Regions from separate parts of the Homo sapiens genome. Here all the other regions are linked to region 2. Evidence: fine-mapped expression QTL. A gene starts in region 2. Each other region holds a variant in brackets. All regions are shown on one strand. Distances are from middle to middle.

Region 1 (5,120 bases), 55 kb after region 2:
TTGCTTTGAAGACAGAGGGAAGGGACCATAAACCAGAAATAAACCTCTAGAAGCTGGAAAAGGCATGGAAATAGACCCTCCCTTAAGGTCTCTGGAGGGAGTGCAGCCTTGATTTCTACCGAGTAAAATTGATTTTGTACTTCAGACCTCCAAAACTGTAAGAGAATGACTGTTGTTTTAAAACCATTGAGTTTGTAGTAATTTGTTGCAGCAGCCACAAGAAACTAATACAACATCTATATAGAATTTTTTCAATAATTGGAGAAATTTGAATATGGATTGCATATTAATATTACTGAATCAGCATTAAATTTGTTAGGTGTAATAATGTGATTGTAGCTATTTAGGAGAATATCCTATTTTTAAGAGACATGCCACCATATTTAGGGAGAAGTGCCAACATATTTGCAGTTTATTTTCAAATGGTTCAGAGGCTGTCTGTGTACATGAGAAGACAAAGATAAGGCAAATGCAGCAAAATTGTAATAATTGGTGAATCCAGGTGAAGGGACTATGGCTGGTCTTTGTACTTTTTTTTCCAACTTTTCTGTAGGTTTAAAATTTTCAAAATAAAAAAATGGGAAATACTTTAAAAATTGTAATCAAAGACATTAGTACAGAAACTTTCATAATGTATTTTATTTTTACAGTAAAATTAATTTATGTAAATTGATAGAATTTTACTAATTTCACTCCCAAGTTACATTAAAAGGCTTACATATGTTTGATAATAGCATATGTAAACTAGAACTCTGAATGATATCCATTGGTCATAATACGTACTATGTAGCGGTAATGGTGACTTTTGTGATTGCACAAGTCTAGAGATGCCCCAAATGACATTGACTTAGACATCTGGTTATTCTAAGGCTGAAACTGAAGTTGAATAGAAGGTTTTAGTCAAATACTGAGATGAAAACTGAGGCAGTCCTGGCGGGGGGGAGTGAGTGTGTGTGTATATATACACACATAGACATCATGCTTCTAAACATTTACAGAAAGAAAGGGTAGATTATCTACAAAAAAATAAGAATCAGACTGATATGAGATCTTACAAACCTAACCCCCTTCTCTTTCCTAAACTCCAGATTCTCATATTTCTGACTTCCTATTTGATATTTACACTTCGATATTTACCAGGAGTCTTCAACATTTTGTTCAAAACAGTACTCTTGGTTTTCTTCCTCCAAGACTACTCCTTACTCATATCAGCAAATAGCAGCTCTTTTCAAGTGCTCAGTGTAAAAACCTACAATTAATCCTTGATTTCTCTTTCAGTCAGCCTATACTAAATCAATTTCATTTAAAATATCTCGGCTACTACTCTGCATCTCCACTGCTACCATCGGCCTCTCCAGTCACATTCTCCAAGAGCACTCTATCTCATTTAAAAGACAAAATCTCTGCAGTGGCCTGTGATGCTCCTTAATGGCCTACATAATCCAGCCCTCAAGCACCTCCGTGATCTCTGTAAAACTTTCCCTTGGTCACTGTGCTTCAGCCACATTAACCAGCTTGCATATTTCTCACATTCACCAAGCTTGTTCCTGCCTTGGGGCCTTTGTACTTACCATGTTCTGTTCTGAGAATACTCTGCCTCAAGATATCCTACAACTATCTTACTGTATTCAGCTCTCTGCTCAAGTATTAACTGATGAAACCTGTCATCCCTACTCCACTCCATGTTCTGCTTTACTTAACAGCAATTGCACATATGGCCCCCTGAATAATATACATTTAGTCACTTATTTTTACTTATCTGCTAATTAAAATGTAGACTTTTTCTATTCTGTTTACTGCTGTATTCCCAGCATGTTTTATCCGAATGTGCAGTGGTTTCTTTTCTTCTCCCTTATCGTGGGAAGTGATGTGCACAAATACACATAATGGAGCCTGAATGTCATATTGCTTTCATACCTGTGTGAATTTTGGTAAGAAAGGAAAAGTAGCGATTGACAGGTAATATAATTACATTAAGTCACTCTCATAGTTAGCTGTTTATTGCTTTCCTGCTCTTATTCTCAGTCCCCAGGACCAAATGTTGACCACTACCTTCCCCCACATATAATTAGGTTATTTACCGAACGCCATGCAGGTGGCTGTTAAAAGGAAGATATATACTTACCTTATAAACTCAACTTTTCCCTGTTGTCTTTCTGTCTCACCCCTACCTCCATGCTTTAAATTAACTTTTCAGGCTTAGGCCTTATCTCTCAGTAGAGCCATATAAGGTATGTGTAAAAGCAGGAAAATGTTTCCTGGGGATGAAGCTTTGAAAAGCTTTTTTTTTTTTTTCTTTTGGCAATAAAATAAGGTAGATTCAGCACAATACCTAATAACTAAAAAATCTGTTTTTAATTGGGTGGGGCAGACAGCAAGTGTGTCATCCTGGAAGATACTATTTGGGATTTTATGTAGGTACATAAGAGAAAAAAGTGAACAAAAGCAAGGGGCTACCAGGACGCCGCAGTATGCTTAACATGTATTTTCTAAGTTTGTATTATGCCTTTATCTTGGTACTTTTATCTTCTGTTCTCACTTGATCTTTTTGAAATGTATTTTAAATCCTAATAAAAATATATAAAGTCTGGAATTAATAAAGGATTAAATGAAACTTTTGTATATCTCACTGAAATTCTCAGAAAAAAGGGGGGTGTGGGGAGGGGGAATTGCCTGGGGTAGTGAGTGAAAATTGTGACCAGGTTCTTACTAAGGAATATGGCAACTGCATAATCAAATGTCAGTGGTTACCAAACTTATGAATCACCTGGTGTTGTGTCATAGATTGTCTATCCTTGCCTCTCGCCCCCAGTGATTTAGATCAGTGGAACTATGTGGGGTTTAAGAAATATACAATATATATTTGTATATATTTGTGTGTCTCGAAAGCTTCAGGGTTAAATAAGTTTTAACTGTTTAGGAAACACT[A/G]TTGTTTTAGGTATCCAGTCTCAAAGACGAAGGCCTTTAAAACTTACTTAATTTTTCATTACATTTCTTGCCCAGAAAATTGTAAAATACCCAACGATAACAATGGGGAATTGTCTATCAGCACTTGACTAAAAAGCTTTACTATCCATGACAGCAGCCTTTGCATTACTCAATTCTGATGGCATTTAACGTCTTGAAACCCAGAAATAAATACCTATAGACTCACAGTACCTGAAAGGAATACCAAATTGAGACAAGAGAGCTATATAAACCAAAAATTGCTTCAACCACAGAATGGAGGTCTACAGGTGCGGAAGGAAAGTTTATATGGTGAGGCTTGGTCGCAAAACTATTAGGAATATTTTCAGGTTACTACACAATTTTGCGAGCTCAATATGCAGTTAACACTTTTTCCCTTGACTCTCCTGAGCAGATTTACATTGACCGCACCCGTAGCATATCGTCTCACTTTGGAAAAGGCAAATTATGTGCACATGACCCTGTCACTACAAGGTAGTTCTCGACCAAGCTACATCTTATAGCTTTATCTTATATTCCTCTCCCATCATCTGCAGGAAAAGGGATAGGTGCTGAGGGAAAACCCCTAAGTAGAACTCACAGTAAGCAGTGGGAAAACAGCTTATTTCACTAACGGGGTTAAGTGGCCCTGAAAAGAGCCTTTGGAGACAAAGCAGCCGGCGACCCGCGGAGGGAGGGAGGGAGGGAGCGAGCGAGCGCCAGGTCCCGGCAGGGACTCACTTGGAGCTGGCGTACTTGGTGACCGCCTTGGTGCCCTCGGACACGGCGTGCTTGGCCAGCTCGCCGGGCAGCAGCAGGCGCACGGCCGTCTGGATCTCCGGGACGTGATGGTGGAGCGCTTGTTGTAGTGCGCCAGGCGGGACGCCTCTCCCGCGATGCGCTCGAAGATGTCGTTGAGGAAGGAGTTCATGATGCCCATGGCCTTGCACCAGATGCCGGTGTCGGGGTGGACCCGCTTCAGCACCTTGTACACGTAGATGGAGTAGCTCTCCTTGCGGCTGCGCTTGCGCTTCTTGCCGTCTTTCTTCTGGGCTTTGGTGACGGCTTTCTTGGAGCCCTTCTTGGGAGCCGGCGCGAACTTTGCAGGCTCAGGCATGGCCAGACCCAAGACCGACACCGACCCCCGAGAACGCAAGCAGAGCGGTAGGCTCGGGGTCTACCGGAAACGACTGTGTACTTACAGAGGCTGTGCGCATGACGCTGCGTTATGGTTCGCGAGTTTTCCGCGGCGCGCAATGCGAGGGAGACGAGATTATGTAAATGAGTGGATTCTGGCTGAGCTATCCTATTGGCTATCGGGACAAAATTTGCTTGAGCCAATCAAAGTGCTCCGTGGACAATCGCCGTTCTGTCTATAAAAAGGTGAAGCAGCGGCGTTTTCGGCGACTTTCCCGATCGCCAGGCAGGAGTTTCTCTCGGTGACTACTATCGCTGTCATGTCTGGTCGTGGCAAGCAAGGAGGCAAGGCCCGCGCCAAGGCCAAGTCGCGCTCGTCCCGCGCTGGCCTTCAGTTCCCGGTAGGGCGAGTGCATCGCTTGCTGCGCAAAGGCAACTACGCGGAGCGAGTGGGGGCCGGCGCGCCCGTCTACATGGCTGCGGTCCTCGAGTATCTGACCGCCGAGATCCTGGAGCTGGCGGGCAACGCGGCTCGGGACAACAAGAAGACGCGCATCATCCCTCGTCACCTCCAGCTGGCCATCCGCAACGACGAGGAACTGAACAAGCTGCTGGGCAAAGTCACCATCGCCCAGGGCGGCGTCTTGCCTAACATCCAGGCCGTACTGCTCCCTAAGAAGACGGAGAGTCACCACAAGGCAAAGGGCAAGTGAGGCTGACGTCCGGCCCAAGTGGGCCCAGCCCGGCCCGCGTCTCGAAGGGGCACCTGTGAACTCAAAAGGCTCTTTTCAGAGCCACCCACGTTTTCAAATAAAAGAGTTGTTAATGCTGGCCACTCTCAGTCCAGCGTTCCTCAGTAGTGAATAGCGAACCTGGAGCTGACGGGACGGGACGGGACGGGACGGGACGGGACGGGGCGGGGCGGGGCGGGGTGTGTGTGTGTGCGCGCCGTCTTCCATCTGGAGCACGTAACTGCCTTGGCTCTTCGATGAGTGGGTCCCCAGTCCTAGGACTTCCCAGGGCAGGTGCAGGCACCA
Region 2 (5,150 bases):
GGCGAAGGTTGTAGTGAGCTGAGATTGGGCCATTGCACTCCAGTCTGGTCAACAAGAGCAAAACTCCGTCTCACAAAAAAAAAAAAAAAAAAAAAAAAAAAGATATATGTTAACCAAGTTTTTTTCTCTAATAATTTCCACATTGAGATTATTGGAAAGTTGCTTCTATAGACATTACTCGAGCTCCCCTCAGAAATATGACAATATCTGTAATGCTCAAAAAGGGCTACATTGCGGGGCATGGTGGCTTACGCCTATAATCCTAGCACCTTGGGAGGCTGAGGTGGGCGGAGTGCCTGAGCTCAGGAGTCTAAGACCAGCCTGGGCAACATGGTGAAACCCTGTCTCTATAAAATACAAAAAATTAGCTGGGTGTGGTGGCACAAGCCTCTAGTCCCAGCTACTTGGGAGGCTGAGGCAGGAGAATTGCTTGAACCTGGGAGGCGGAGGGAGGCTGCAGTGAGCTGAGATCGCGACACTGCACTCCAGCTTGGGCAACAAAGTGAGACTCCATCTCAAAAACAAAAACAAAAACAAAAACGCTACGGGTAGTGGCTCACGCCTGTAATCCCAGCATTTTGGGAGGCTGAGGCAGGAGGATCACCTGAGGTCAGGAGTTTGAGACCATCCTGGTCAACATGGTGAAACCCCATCTCTACTAAAAATACAAAAAAATAGCTGGGTGTGGTGGTGCATGCCTGTAATCCCAGCTACTGGGGAGGCTGAGGCAGAAGAATCGCTTGAACCCAGGAGGCGGAGATGGCAGTGAGCCGAGATCGTGCCATTGCACTGCAGCCTGGGCAACAAGAGCGAAACTCCATCTCAAAAAAAAAAAAGAAAAGAAAAGAAAAGAAAAAAAAGGCTATATAAAGGTTTCTTCATCATCTGTAATCATTTTCTTAGTTCTTATCCTCTTTTCACTGCTTTAGTGGTTTTTAAAAACATTTTTCTTTTAAACAAATACAAATACTACTTTTTGGAAATGAACAGGCTGTAAAAAAGCCAAACATTCCCCCCCTCAAGATGAAATTCAAATGTGTCCCTGCCTATATCCCCTGTCTTGTCCATTAACTCACTTCTCAGTCCAGCGTCTATGTCTTTGCTCAGGTTCTTCTCCCTGCCTGCAGCACCTATCCTCTCCTTTCTGGTTAATTTTGTGCTTTCCTTTAAAGATCCAACTAGATCACTTCCCTCATAAAGCCCTTCCCGACTAGTCTACAAGTATCTTTCTTCTCCCAAGAACACCTGTGGCACTGATTCAGCAGTCCATTAAGAACACAGCCTCATAGTGTAATTTCTTTTAATGTATAGGATTGTTTCCAACTCATCAGGTCTGGTGCAATTCTGTCACGATTTAACATGGAACATCCGGGCTGCCCTTCCTGAATAGTCCAGGGCAAGAGCAGTAGTGAGTGATTCTTCTCTTTTCTCGGGTTCACTTTGACCTGAAGCAAGTTGCTATCTTCGGAGAGTATGTATGGACCCCAACAGAATGGGGCCCAGGGGTCTTCATCCCTTACAAATCCTGGACTGTATCAAAGGGAAGGCCTCGGTAATTCGTGCTCACCCAGCCCATTCGGATCCTGGTCCTCCCTCTCTTGGGGTTCAGGGGGTTCCTAGAGTTTTCTTGTTCCCACCCAGGCATGGGGGGCTAGTGTCCAGCTGAGAGTTCTCTCTCCACTGGGCGGGGGTCCGTGCCTGGATGGCCAGCGCATGGACCGGACCTCCCAGCTCCTCGGCCAGCGCTGCGTGGACCAGCCGGTGTCGTTGTAGGGGGCTCAGTCCCTCGAAACGAGAGCTCACCACAGCCACGCGGAAGTGAGTCTCACTGCCAGGCGGGACCGCGTGGCCACCGCTCTCGTTGCGAAGCTCTAGCACCTCGGGGCTCAGGGCCTCCTCCAACTTCGTGCGAATGGCGGCCTCCACCGGACCGATGGCCCCGGATCCCGCGCTGCCCTGGCACAAACAAACGCGGCCAGCCATGGAGACCAGACCCAGGACCAGCCGCCCACTCAGCATGGGCTACGCCAGAGACTCAGACGCCAGGAGTGAGGGTCGGGGCGATCCGCCTGGTGAGAGCACAATGTCAACACCCGCCCCGCGATCCCCGCATCCGCCCTAACCCCACGCCCGGACGTCCACACCAGCTCCTATAGGGAGCCCGCCTTGATGCCACACGGGGAGACCCGAGACACCGCCCCTTTTCTCTACGTGACGTGGTGAATTCGACCTCCAGCTGTGGAAGTGAAGGGACAAGCGAAGATTAGAAAGGCCCGCACGCGAGGCGCGTTCGTTCCTTAGGGGATTTGCAAAGAATGGGCAAAAGTAGGGCATGTGCAACTGCGTACTTGTGGTTGGGCCGAAGCCCCTGTGTTCCCTGTGAAGCCCCGGAGACGCCCCTTCTACCTGCCGCTCAGCCTCGGCCACTGCGATTCCCGCTCAGGGCCAGGACTCTGGACGCTCCGGAGCAAAATGCAGTCCTGGCGCCCTTCCTGAGGCACGCTGGGAAATGGAGTCCTCGCTGCGCGTTGGTAGCACGGGCAGGCACCACGTGGTGCCCTGAGGGCTCATGGGAACTGTAGTCTCGGATTCTCCCCACTGGTAAGGTGGTCAGAAAGTCTGAACCCAGCAATGCAAAGAAAAAGGGAATTCACGCGCAGTTGGGATTGGGATTATTAGATCTATTTTACTGCCAATAGATCTTGTAGATCATCCAGCCCAACTCCTTTATTTTATATGCAAGAAAATGGAAGTCTGATTGAATACATAATTACTGTGCCCCAGACTAGTGCTGGGGACTGGGGAGTCAAGTCAGGCCCTGTTTTCAAGGAGACAACAGAGCACTGAAGACTAACAAGTGAGCGGACAATTGCAATACTGGGTACTAGGTGCTACGATGAGATAAACACAGGATGCTAAGGAGGCAAGTTACCCAGACTTGGCCGGGGTTGGAGAGGTGGAATGGGAGGCGGGCAGAGAATATTTCCGAGATTTAGGGAAACAGTTCAGCAGAAACAACATGAGAATCCATTTCTCAGTCCCTCATAGTGAGGTTTTGGCTTTGGTAGCTGCATGTGTAAAGGACAGGAGGAGAGAGAATTTTGAGGGAGTCTTTCCTTCTGGTGTAGTTAGGGTGTGGTTATGTGTGGTTGGAGCCTAGGGGGCAGCTGATGGTGATGAGTAGGGTACCAGGAGGAGAGGAACGGGCCAGACCACCCCAGGCCTTGTAGCCCTTGTTAGGCAATTTTGTCTTTATCCTAGAAGTAGTGGGAAGCTACTGAGGTTTTAAGCAGGGATGTAACAGGATGTAATTTTTCCAGGATGATTCTTAACTTGTAAAATTATTTAAATTTTATTTTGTATCCTTAATATATTTACATATTTCTAAATGTTTTTCCCCAACTTCTCATTTTGAAAAATGTCAAAGCCACAGAAAAGTTGAATAGTTCAAAGCAACACCCTCTACCTTTCACTTGACCCACCATTTTTTGCATTTATATTTATTTTATACTTGTACATATATACTCATATATTTAAGTACTTTACATATACTTTAAAATATATTTATATGCTTTTTTGGATGAACCATTTGAAAGTAAGTTGCAGATAGCATGACATTTCACCCCTAACTACTCCAATATGTATCTCCTAAGAACAAAGATATTCTCATACATAACCACAATAACCTTATCACACTCAAGAAATTTAAACTATGACATACACTGTTTTCCCTAGCCTTTAAAAAAAATTAAAACTTCCAGAAAATTTGCAAGATTAATACAATGAGCAACCCATTTATCCACTCTTCACCTAGGTTCACTGATAAGATTTTGCCAGACTTGGCTTTGTATCTCTTTTAATGTATGTGTGTATAATAATAATGAAATAATAATAATTATTTCTGCTGAATCACTTGAGTTAGGTGCAGAAATCTTATTTATTTATTTTTTTTTGAGATGGAGTTTTGCTCTTCTTGCCCAGGCTGGAGTGCAATGGCGTGATCTTGGCTCACTGCAACCTCTGCCTCCTGGGTTCAAGCAAGTCTCCTGCCTCAGCCTCCTGATTAGCTGGGATTACAGGCATGTGCCAACATGCCCGGCTAATTTTGTATTTTTAGTAGAGACGGGGTTTCTCCATGTTGATCAGGCTGGTCTGGAACTCCCAACCTCAGGTGATCCACCCTCCTCGGCCACCCAGGATTACAGGGATTACAGGCGTGAGCCACTGCGCCTGGCCCAAAATTCTTTTTTTTTTTTTTTTTAAACAGAGTCTCACTCTGTTGCCCAGACTGGAGTGCAGTGGCGCCATCTTGGCCCACTGCAACCTCCACCTTCTGGGTTCAAGTGATTCTCCTGCCTCAGCCTCCTGAGTAGCTGGGACTACAGGCTGGTGCCACCATACCTGGCTAAATTTTTTTGCATTTCTAGTAGAGATGGGGTTTCACCATGTTGGCCAGGCTGGTCTGGAACTCCTGACCTCAAGTGATCCTCCTGCTCTGGAACTCCTGACCTCAAGTGATCTGCCTGCCTCAGCCTCCCAAAGTGATGGGATTACAGGCGTGAGCCACTGCACCCAGCCACAAAATTCTTTTTTTTTTTTTTGAGATGGAGTTTCGCTCTTGTTGCCTAGGCTGGAGTGCAATGGTGCGATCTTGGCTCACAGCAACCTCCGCCTCCTGGGTTCAAGCGATTTGCTTGCCTCAGCCTCCCATGTAGCTGGGATTACAGGCGTGCGCCACCACTCTGGCTAATTTTGTGTTTTTAGTGGAGACGGGGTTTCTCCATGTTGGTCAGGCTGGTCTTGACTCAGGTCATCAGTCCGCCTCGGCCTCCCAAAATGCTGGGATTATAGGCGTGAGCCACTGCGCCTGGCCCCACAAAATTCTTTACACTTAATTGCTATGTACTTTCAATGTGTATCTCCTAAGAACAAGGACATTTTCATACATATCCACAATACCATTACCACATCCAAGACATTTAACATTCATACAATACTATAATCACATACAGTTGATATTCAGATTTCCCCAACTGTCTCATTGGTGTCTACTATAGTTTGAATATGTCTCCTCCAGAATTCATGTTGAAAATTAATCCATGGTGTTGGTATTAAGTGGTGGGGCCTTTAGGAGGTAATAAGGCTATGAG
Region 3 (5,150 bases), 220 kb after region 2:
GCAGATGGAGACAAAAGCTACCTCTAGTTGCCCTCACTGCTCATTAGCATAAAGACACTCCTACCAGTGCCATGACAGTTTATAAATGCCATGTCAACATGCCATGGCAATGGCCAGGAAGTTACCTTATATGCTTCTGGAAACTCCTCATCCCTTTTCCAAAAAGTTCTGAATAACCCACTTCCTAATTAGCATCTAATTAAAAGCATCTAAATAAATACAGCTAGCTAGCAACCCACACACTGCCCATGGGTTAGCCTTCCTCCACGAGAAGCAGTACCAGTTTAACAAAAGTTGCTTTCTTTCACCGCTGGGTTGCCCTTGAATTCTTACCTGGGCAAAGCCAAGAACTCTCCTGGGCTAAGCCCCAATTTTGGGGTTGTCCTTCCTTGCATCATCTGGTGACCACAAAGACAAGACAAGATGGGACAGGACATGATATAACACAGGACAGGACAGAGTCAAGAACTGTTTAAGGCAGGACACTTGGTCGTGAAAAGTCCCTTACTGTGCTGACCCTGAGATGCCAAAGTCACATTGTTCAGTGGCCCCTAACTTGGCCTTTGGGGTTCACCATTGCCTCCCCTGCAGTTTCAGCATTCAGTGTGGGGACCATCACTGGCTGATACTTGGGTACTCTGGGTTTTTGGCATTTCGTTGTGGTGAGAGTTCCACTGTCACTGTTGGCCTCTCCCTGGATGCTCTGGGGTTTTCAGCATTGACATTCCCTATAGGATTGTGGATTAGAGCTCCTTCCCTGGAGGAGTGTGGATGTCATCTTCTCCGCCCTTAAATTAAAAGATTAAGATTTTCCATAACAGCCAGTTGTGGGCCCCCTCCTACGTGACTTTGCTCAAGCCCATATTGAACTCTTGGTCAGAGGGACCAGGGGTTCCTGGACCCCTGGCCCAAGTGACAACTACCCATAGTGGCAGACAAGCAGCAGCCACCCAAACATTTTGCCCAAATATTTTTCCTCAGTCTCTGTGGCTGCTGGGTAGATTTTCTGGCACCTCAGTCTGGACAACGCTGTTCATGCTTTCCCTTCCTCCCTTCCATGATCACCTTGTTTCTTTTAACCCCTCTTTGCCCAAACTAAAATGCTTTCTTCACTCTGTGGAATTCAGACCCATCATTTTACTTCGCATTCATATTTCATAATCTACTTTCATAACGCTTGGCTAACTGTACTTACATCTTCTCTGCAGGAGGTGGGAATTTGAAAGGGAAAGTAACTGAGCTTTTGCTAGACTTAGAAAAACTTCTGGGTGTAGTAGAGATCCTTGTTAGACATGGGGACAAAGGCGAGCATCCCAAAGGACTCCCCACTAGGGTGTCTTTAAGGCAATTGGAGCAAATTCAAATGAGATGGCTCAAAGAAAAAGAAACAATTTTCTTGGGAGAACAAGAAATTTGGCCTGAAACTTGTTCTTTACATTATCATACTATTTTACAATTGGACTTATTCAGTAAAAAGGAAGGAAAATGAGGAGAAGTTCCTTACGTACAGGCTTCTATGGCCCCCTACCAGGATTCTGACTTAAGAGTCAACTGCAGGATGTGTCTGGCTCATGTTACTTCCAGGCACCAAGAAACCGCGTGGGATATCCTCGATGCTCCCTTCCTAGCGGCACCCCCTGGAGGGCCCATGCCCTCTCCAGGGTCTTCTCAGTCCCCCAGTTCTGCGAGGGGTCCTGCCAGTTCTCCAGTGTGGGATTTCACCCCAATGTCATCAGAAAACCCTCCCTTTTATTTAGCTAGCTCCAGCCTGTATCCCCCACTGCCCAAGGAAGTAAGCCCAACCAGAACCACCAGGAGTGGAGCTCTCTATCAGCCCCTCAAATTGAATCTGTGTCCATTGCTGGAGTTAGCTGGCAGAGATAGGGGAACAATCAGAGTATATGTGCCATTTCCTTTGTCCAAATTGGCTTTCTTCAAGGAGAAATATGGCTGGTTTTTGAAGGATCCAGGGAAGTTTATAGAGGAGTTTGTCAGGTTGATGATGTCCTTTGATTTAACTTGGCACAACTTGCAAATATTATTGTCCTCTTCCTGTATTATAGAGGAGAAGAGAGGGATTCTGGGTACTGGCCTGTGAATATGCAGTTAGAGTAGCTGCTCATATCCAAGGCCATACCATTTATGTAGGGGGAGATGCAGTTCCACATAGAGACCCTCAGTGGGATTACCAGAAGGGTTCCCAAGAACTTGAACATAGAAATCACATGCTAACTTGTTTAATAGAAAGTATGAAAAGGTGTGTGATTAAGCCAGTTAATTATGACAAGGATAGAGAAGTAACTCAGTGGAAGGATGAAAATCCCATTCTGTTTTAGGGCTGCTTGGTTGAGGCACTCAGGAAATATACTAATGTAGACCCAGACAACCCGGAAGGGCGGGCTCTTCTGGGCATGCGTTGTATTACTCAATCTATCCTTGACATTAGGAGGAAGTTACAAAAGGCAGGAATGGGACCCCAAACTCCATGAGCCAACTCTTAAACATGGCCTTTGGAGTTTACAACAATAGGGACAAGGCAGAGGAAGAGGATAAAACCAAAAGAAATAGCCAAAAAATGCAATTGTTTGCAGCTGCTTTCAGCCTCCTACTGCTTTTGAGCTGCCCATCCTGAGAAAGTGTTGCAAGAGTGGCTTTGGGATGCCCAGACAAAAGCCAGCTCATCATCCCCTAGGCTGGAATCAGTGTGCCTTCTGTAAGCAAGAGGGCCACTGGAGGAAAGACTGCCTCAGTCTCCAAACGGAGTCTGAGCTTCTCGGACCCCTAATGGCTAAGAGAACAGAGGACTGACAGGGCCCAAGATTCCCTACAGCTTCCACCAGACACCTTGCCATCTCTACAGAAGAGCCTCAGGTAATTCTTGACATGGCGGGTAAAAATATTGAGTTATTGGATATGCGAGC[C/T]GCCTTCTCAGTTCTGATCTAGTCCTTGGGGCCGCTGTCTTCCCACTCCTGTACTGTAATGAGGATTGATGACCAGCTAAAAGCTAGGAGATTCACCCATTCCTTTAGTTGCACTGTGGGGAACCATGTTTTTCCACAGATTTTTGCTTAGTCTTGAGTGCCTTATTCCTTTACTGGGAAGAGACTTACTTTCCCAATAACAGGCTGCAGTTCCATTTGGAGCACCTCAAGAGAAGGCCACAGGCTGGGAAGGGACACTTCTCCTAGCTCTAAGTTCATGTCTTTACACAGATAAAGAAAAGACGTTCCTTCCATCAAATATTACTTCTCAAGTAGACCCGTCTGCTTGTGACATGGTAGTTCCTGGAAGAACTGCAAATGTTCTCCCAGTCCAGGTTATTTTGAAACCCAGTGTTAATTATCTATGGGAAAAAAAATATCCTTTTAAGTGTGGTGGCCCATGCTTTTAATCTCTGCACTTTCGGAGGCCAAGGTGGGCATATCACTGGAAGCTAGGAGTTTGAGACCAGCCTGGCCAACAAGGCAAAACCCCATCTCTACTAAAAACACAAAAATTAGCTAGGTATGGTGGTGTACATCTGTAATCCCAACTACTCAGAAGGCTGTGGCAGGAGAATTGCTTGAACCCGGAAGGCAGAGGTAGCAGTGAGCCTTGCGCCGCCGCACTCCAGCCTGGATAACAGAGCAAGACTCTGACTCAAAAAAAAAAAAAAGAAAAATCCAGTATCCTTTTAGACCTTTGGCTCCAAGGGCCATCCATCCCCTGATAATGAAGTATGGATTATTACAATCCTGTCAGTCCCAACGTAACACCCCCATTTTTCCTGTTAATAAGCCAAACGGGGAATATAGATTTGTTCAGGATCTTAGGGCAGTTAATGAGGCATTAGTTCCAGTCACCCAATAGTTCCTAATCTTTATACAATAATAACTCAAGTCCCTGAAGATGCTTATTGGTTCATAGTATTAAATTTAAAAGATGTTTTCTTTCACACACCTTTACACCTGGACACCCAATACATTTTTGCATTTGAATGGACTAATCCAGACACTCATGCTGCATCTCAGCTTACCTGGACTGTCCTGTCCCCAAGGTTTTAGGACAATCCCCATCTGTTTGGCAATGCATTGGCAAAAGAGGTATGGGAACTACAGTTAATTAATGGATCCCTCTTACCATATGTGTATCACCTATTAATTTCCAGCCCTACTAGGGGAAGACTCTGAGAAACATACAACTTCAAGTCCTTAATTTTGAAACAAAACAAGGGTATCAGGTATCCCCCCGAAAGGCCCAAATTTCTGTCCAAAGGGTCACGTATTTGGGACACATTCTCACTCCTGGGACCAGGATCTTGACCCAGGGATGAAAAGAGACCATCCTGGCACTCCAGGTCCCTCAAATTCCTTTTTGAGAATAGCTGGATTCTGCTGGGTTTGGATTCCCAGGTTTGGGCTCATAGCAAAACCACTCTACGAACCTCCAAAAGTGAGTGGTTATAAGCCTTTGAATTGCAATGGAGCCTGTCAAAAGGCATTCTTAGCCTTAAAAGAAAAGCCAGGGACAGCCCCTGCTTCAAGACTCTCGAACTTAGAAAAACCTTTCATCCTCTATGTGGATGAATAACAAGGGACAGCTTTGGATGTTCTAACTCGAAGGGTCAGGAATTGCCTCAGACCAGTGGCTTATTTCTCTAAACAGCTAGACCAGGTGGCAGCTGAGTGACCAGGAAGCTTGAGATCTGTGGCTACCATCACTCTATTGGTAGAAGAAGCCAGTAAGTTTACCTTGGGACAACAAGTAGATGCCATACCACCCCCGCCCCCCACCACCCCATGAAGTACAGTACAGAGGGTCCTAGAGGCAAAAGTATACCAATGGCTAATAGGGGGCCAGTTACTTAAATATCAGGCTCTTCTGCTTGACACCCCAGATGTTACCCTTAAAGTATGCTGATTTTTAAACCCTGCTACTCTGTTGCTGGACCTCACATCCCAAGAAACAGATCCCCAACTCATTGACTCCTGGGTGGAAACCATGGAAGAGATCTACTCTAGAAGGTCCAACCTTGAAGACAAGCCCTTGTCTAACCCCAGTGTTGAGTGGTTTAGAGATGGAAATAGCTTTATTCATGAGGGAGTAAGAAAGGAAGGTTAGCTAACAAGAAGTCATTGAGGCCAAGGGTTTACCTTCTCAGAATTCTGCTC
Region 4 (5,150 bases), 86 kb after region 2:
GACTCTCATGGCTTCTTCAACTTGGTCCAGGGCTGCAGACCATTCAAGAGAAATTCAAATCAGGCATAGGGCCTCATCAACCCACAAACCAATTCAGCTGGTCTCAGCTTATGATACTTATAACCCTGAGGATACTTGAAGCCAAAAATGAAACATAAATTATCTTATTGGAACATCTATGTTAACTTAGTCCGTTACTTTTGTATTAAAAGTAAACACATGTACATACAAAACATTATGTGCGTAATAATTCATTTATTAATATTTTCTTTTGCCTTCTTATTTCTTGTTAGGTAAATTTTAATCTTCTCTTGTCTATTCCCCCGTGCTACCTAATGAAATTTCTGTTCTCAGTATTCAAGCTGCACAGCCTTATAATTTCTGCTGAAGGACACTTCAAAAATTTTAGGAGGAATATTCCGTCTTTGTTACAACTGAAGAAAAGCAGAGCTTCTTTTGCACCATAAAGTTGCTTCTGATATAGTGGTGGATTGAGACCTTTCACAGAAATGTCACTCTAGTGTCCAATGTGGGGACTAGGTGAAATTGAACTAACAATTGATCTGAATTCTGTTATTAAAGATGACTTTTAAGGCAACTATACATCTGATTGTTTTATTCTGAGAAATGATACCTATAGCCATTAAAGTCTGATTGAATGCCATTTTCTTATTTAAATGAACACATCCTACATTATGGTCAAGACTGCATACATCATAGAGAAAGTATATTGCAAAGAAATGTGATGCTTGGGTGGGCTGCTTTGGGCTATCATCCAGATTCCATGGGGTAGTTTTCCCTTCTAATGGGAATAGTTGGGTGTAGATGTTTGAGAAATACTAGATGATGTGATTGCTTGATGGGAAAACGCTTTTGTGCTTTAAACTGTGTTGGCTGGGTGCGTGGGGCTCATGCCTGCAACCCAAGCACTTTGGGAGGCCGAGGAGGGTGGATCACCTGAGGTCAGGAGTTCGAGACCAGCCTGACCAATATGGTGAAACCGTGTCTCTACTAAAAATACAAATAAATAAATAAATTAGCTGGGGGTGGTGGCTTGCGCCTATAGTCCCAGCTGCTCAGGAGGCTGAGACAGGAGAATTGCTTGAACACAGGAGGCAGAGGCTGCAGTGAGCAGAGATCCTACCACTGCACTCCAGCCTGGGTGACAGAGTGAGACTCCATCTCAAATGAAAAAAAAAAAAAAAAGGTATCCTCTAAGCCTAATGAAATAGAAAGTTTCATCATTACAGTTTCATTCTTTTGCTTTAGAATATTACACAGGCTTTGTTACTTACCCAGGACAAGCCATAATTTCTCTGAGACTCAGTTTTCTTATCTGTAAAGTGAGAAGAGTAACATCTATTTCACAGAGTAGGGATTAAATGATAAAGTGTATGTAGAAGAACTTTAAACACTGAGTAGTGCCTGCTGTCTGTAAGGCATTATTACAAAACTACCACAGAGAGGGATAACATTTGTTCACATCAGTTACACTTTTGTACATTTTAGATCTCTCGAGAGGAGGATGCTTCTGCCCATGAGAGACTCTTGAAGATATTAATTAAGCTCACAGATTTCTACTTTGTGTTTAGTGTTCAGGAAGTCCCCTTGAAATCACTTTTACTTTACTTTGACTTCAGTAGGAAGATAGTTCATAATGACACCATCAAAGTAAGTTTTAAGCGTTTCGGGCCTGCTTTTCTCAGGTTTGAGTTTTTATAGTTTGTAATGATTTTTTTAGTAAAATAAGGATATGATTAAAAGTTTTATATTAACTACTACAACTTTTAAGTATCAGTTGCTTCTACATAACCACTATGATATTTACTGTTCTGAACAATACATACTTCAAAGCACATGAAATTGAAAAAGCAAAGCATCTTTACTCTCTTCATAGAGAACAGAAAAAAAACTAAACTTTTAAGCATTATAAAATACTTTATTGAATAAAATGTTAGCAAGTCAGCAATTGATGAATAATTTGCTTTGAAACTTGAACTTGTAATCTGGCTAATAAGCACTAATTTACAAACTATTCTACATTGTAAAGGAGAAATGAATTTCTGGTGTTGTCCTTCTTTGATTTAGAAGCTTAACATCTGCAGGACCTAATTGGCCATTGATGTGAGGTTGAGGAAGAAGGAACCACATCGCAGGGAGAAAAGACTAAAGGAAGGCAGAGGCTCTAATATCAGGTCAATATAGGTCAGCACACTACCCACATGAAATGGCTTTGGCTGGGTTCCAAGGTCAAGTAAATAAGATCAATTTTTTCATTCCTTCAATTACATATTTTTTTGCTAAGCTTCGGTCATTCATGGTATACAATGCATCTAACTTGCTGAGCAAAATGCCAGACATGAAATAAATGTTAGCTATGGTAGAAGAGCTACAGTAACAGGTAACCTGAAACAGGCTGATAGCTCATAGAAGGGCATGCTTGAATTCGGGGAAAAAAAAAATCTCTGTTAAAATGGGATGCAAAACACTTTATACATTGCTTTTACAAAAGTTAGACTAATTTAAAGGAAAGTCTTCAAAAACAATCCGTGATCGATAAAATTACAGAAAAAAATCAGGAAAGGGGGAAATAATAAGGGAAGAAAGATTAGCAGAACAATCTTCCGCCCCAGTAAAGAGGATTGAATTTTAACCAATGAGATCACAAGTTTGAAAATTTCCTTTTCAGGCCCAATCAAGAGGAGACTATGTCTATAAATATGACTGCCTAGACCCTCTCCTATCAATGAGACAGCATGGCCCGTACTAAGCAGACTGCCCGCAAGTCGACCGGCGGCAAGGCCCCGAGGAAGCAGCTGGCTACCAAAGCGGCCCGCAAGAGCGCGCCGGCCACGGGCGGGGTGAAGAAGCCGCACCGCTACCGGCCCGGCACCGTGGCTCTGCGGGAGATCCGGCGCTACCAGAAGTCTACGGAGCTGCTGATCCGCAAGCTGCCCTTCCAGCGGCTGGTACGCGAGATCGCGCAGGACTTTAAGACGGACCTGCGCTTCCAGAGCTCGGCCGTGATGGCGCTGCAGGAGGCCAGCGAGGCCTACCTGGTGGGGCTGTTCGAAGACACGAACCTGTGCGCCATCCATGCCAAGCGCGTGACCATCATGCCCAAGGACATCCAGTTGGCCCGCCGCATCCGCGGGGAGCGGGCCTAAGGCATATTTTTAAGTGGTCGATCTAAAGGCTCTTTTCAGAGCCACTGCCGTTTTCATCAAGAGCAGCTGTACC[G/A]GCTCTCCATCTGATGTGCGTCTGCCTTGCGCAGCGGTCAGGGGCCAGGGGCACTCGTGGTGGGTGACGTTACAGAACCCAAAGCCCAGCCGTGAGTTGGCCGGCAGTAGAGAAAGCCGCAGAGGCATGGTCCTTGTGGTTCCGGCCGAGCGTTTTCACGCTGGTTTAAGGCTAGAGGTCCGGCTCCCAATTCTGTGGGTAAAGTTTTGCATGGGGGCAAGAGACTATGGGGAGTTTCTAGATGTGGAAGATCCTGAGTGTAAGGGTGGGGCGAGTCCCTTAAAAATTATAAACCCGTTTCCTGGTTTATTTAGGAACTATAAGCTTAATTAAAGCTCAGCATCTTCCTCATTGCATACTACAGGCGGTGTCCAAGCCAGAATAGTAATTTAAGCGGGCGGGAGTAAATATCTGGCGATTTTTAAAAATGGGTGAGGTAGTATTTCAAGGAAGAGAAAAAAATTTCCACAAAGTATAGAATAAAAATGCAAAAACGAGGCAAGAGAGTTAACTTGTCTAGCTGGCGTTAAGATTTCTTCCGTATGCAAGTCTAATGGAAAGTGAAAACCAAGAAAAAACCCCAAGCCGTAGAAACTATCGCTTCACCTAGCTTAAAACTGGTTAGTGTGAAATGGACCATTCTGATAGGATAACAAGACTTTTGTTACAGTGACCATTAAGGAAGCAAGACTAGAATCTATTATTTACATAGACTCCACCCCCTCTGACGACACCGTTGTAAGTTAACCAATGAAAGCGCAGCACTTTGCGAGTCTTCATTTGCATACGGGCTCTATAAGTAGCGCATAACCAGCCCGTTTTGCGGTAGTTCGGATTACTTCTTTAAGTCTCTTTTCTCTTTTTTCGCGCAAAAATGCCGGATCCAGCGAAATCCGCTCCTGCTCCCAAGAAGGGCTCCAAAAAGGCTGTTACGAAAGTGCAGAAGAAGGACGGCAAGAAGCGCAAGCGCAGCCGCAAGGAGAGCTACTCCGTTTACGTGTACAAGGTGCTGAAGCAGGTCCACCCCGACACCGGCATCTCGTCCAAGGCCATGGGCATCATGAACTCCTTCGTCAACGACATCTTCGAGCGCATCGCGGGAGAGGCGTCCCGCCTGGCGCACTACAACAAGCGCTCCACCATCACATCCCGCGAGATCCAGACGGCCGTGCGCCTGCTGCTGCCCGGCGAGCTGGCCAAGCACGCCGTGTCCGAGGGCACCAAGGCGGTCACCAAGTACACCAGCTCGAAGTAAGAGTGTGCAAGGGACGCAATAGATCAACCACCTAACCCCAAAGGCTCTTTTCAGAGCCACTTCAGTAATCGAGAAAGCAGCTGTAAACACTTGTCAGAGCGTTTGATAGCTTTTGGTCAGGTAGGGAGTGTTACCATGGTCACGGATGCATTCGGGTTTAGGACTAAGGAGTTTCCTGTAGTCCTGTAATGAGTTGGCCCTCAGTCATCCCCGTCCAGTCTTACTGAGTTGCTTGTTATCTGTGCTACGAGATTCGAAAGGTTTGACTCGTTCTGGGATATTTGGGAGGGATGGAGGGAAGGAGGCGGGGGGTGGTTCTACACCCCTTCGGCCTTTAACCTGTATCTTTAAAGTCGTTTTCCTTTTTGTTTCTGAAAGTAATGAACGAGATGAGATTTCCCATACAGATGAGAAACCCTCGGTCCGACCTCTTACTATTTCTTAGTGTTTTAATCTGTTTTCCTTACCATATACCTACAGGCGTCTGTCACAAACTTTGTCTAATATAGCCATGTGCTTTCGTCCCTTAGCCTTTTTGCAAGTCCTGACTTAGCCATCCTCCCCTAACTTCCATTCCAGTGACTTCAAACAGGGAGATATATTGCCACCACCCCACCCCCTGTGGAGTATTTGGCAATATCTGTAGATGTTTTGG

What was found.
Region 1: its variant is fine-mapped to the expression of BOLA1 in whole blood (INTERVAL, PIP 0.95).
Region 3: its variant is fine-mapped to the expression of BOLA1 in whole blood (TOPMed, PIP 0.97).
Region 4: its variant is fine-mapped to the expression of BOLA1 in whole blood (TOPMed, PIP above 0.99).

The regions. Positions count from the first base shown.
Region 1 is chr1:149,841,982-149,847,101 of GRCh38, reverse strand. H2AC18 (H2A clustered histone 18) reads left to right here and starts at 4,352. Exons shown (of 1, transcript NM_003516.3): 1 at 4,352-4,884. The coding sequence starts at 4,404. The coding sequence ends at 4,796. It also overlaps the pseudogene H2BC19P and a transcript of H4C15 not described here. RefSeq lists an enhancer at 1,014-1,777. The variant A/G (reference allele first, on the strand shown) is at 2,929.
Region 2 is chr1:149,896,929-149,902,078 of GRCh38, reverse strand. It overlaps BOLA1 (bolA family member 1), which reads right to left and starts at 2,511. Exons shown (of 2, transcript NM_016074.5): 1 at 2,407-2,511; 2 at 1,284-2,069. The coding sequence starts at 2,019. The coding sequence ends at 1,606. LOC124904412 (a long non-coding RNA gene) reads left to right here and starts at 2,531. Exons shown (of 2, transcript XR_007066597.1): 1 at 2,531-2,601. RefSeq lists an enhancer at 2,418-2,477.
Region 3 is chr1:149,681,897-149,687,046 of GRCh38, reverse strand. No RefSeq gene overlaps it. Among named protein-coding and RNA genes, the nearest start is that of TRV-CAC1-7, 28 kb to the left of the region's middle. The variant C/T (reference allele first, on the strand shown) is at 2,922.
Region 4 is chr1:149,811,288-149,816,437 of GRCh38, reverse strand. H2BC18 (H2B clustered histone 18) reads left to right here and starts at 4,068. Exons shown (of 1, transcript NM_001024599.5): 1 at 4,068-4,559. The coding sequence starts at 4,115. The coding sequence ends at 4,495. H3C13 (H3 clustered histone 13) reads left to right here and starts at 2,745. Exons shown (of 1, transcript NM_001123375.3): 1 at 2,745-3,213. The coding sequence starts at 2,757. The coding sequence ends at 3,167. RefSeq lists enhancers at 2,816-3,105, 4,329-4,408. The variant G/A (reference allele first, on the strand shown) is at 3,241.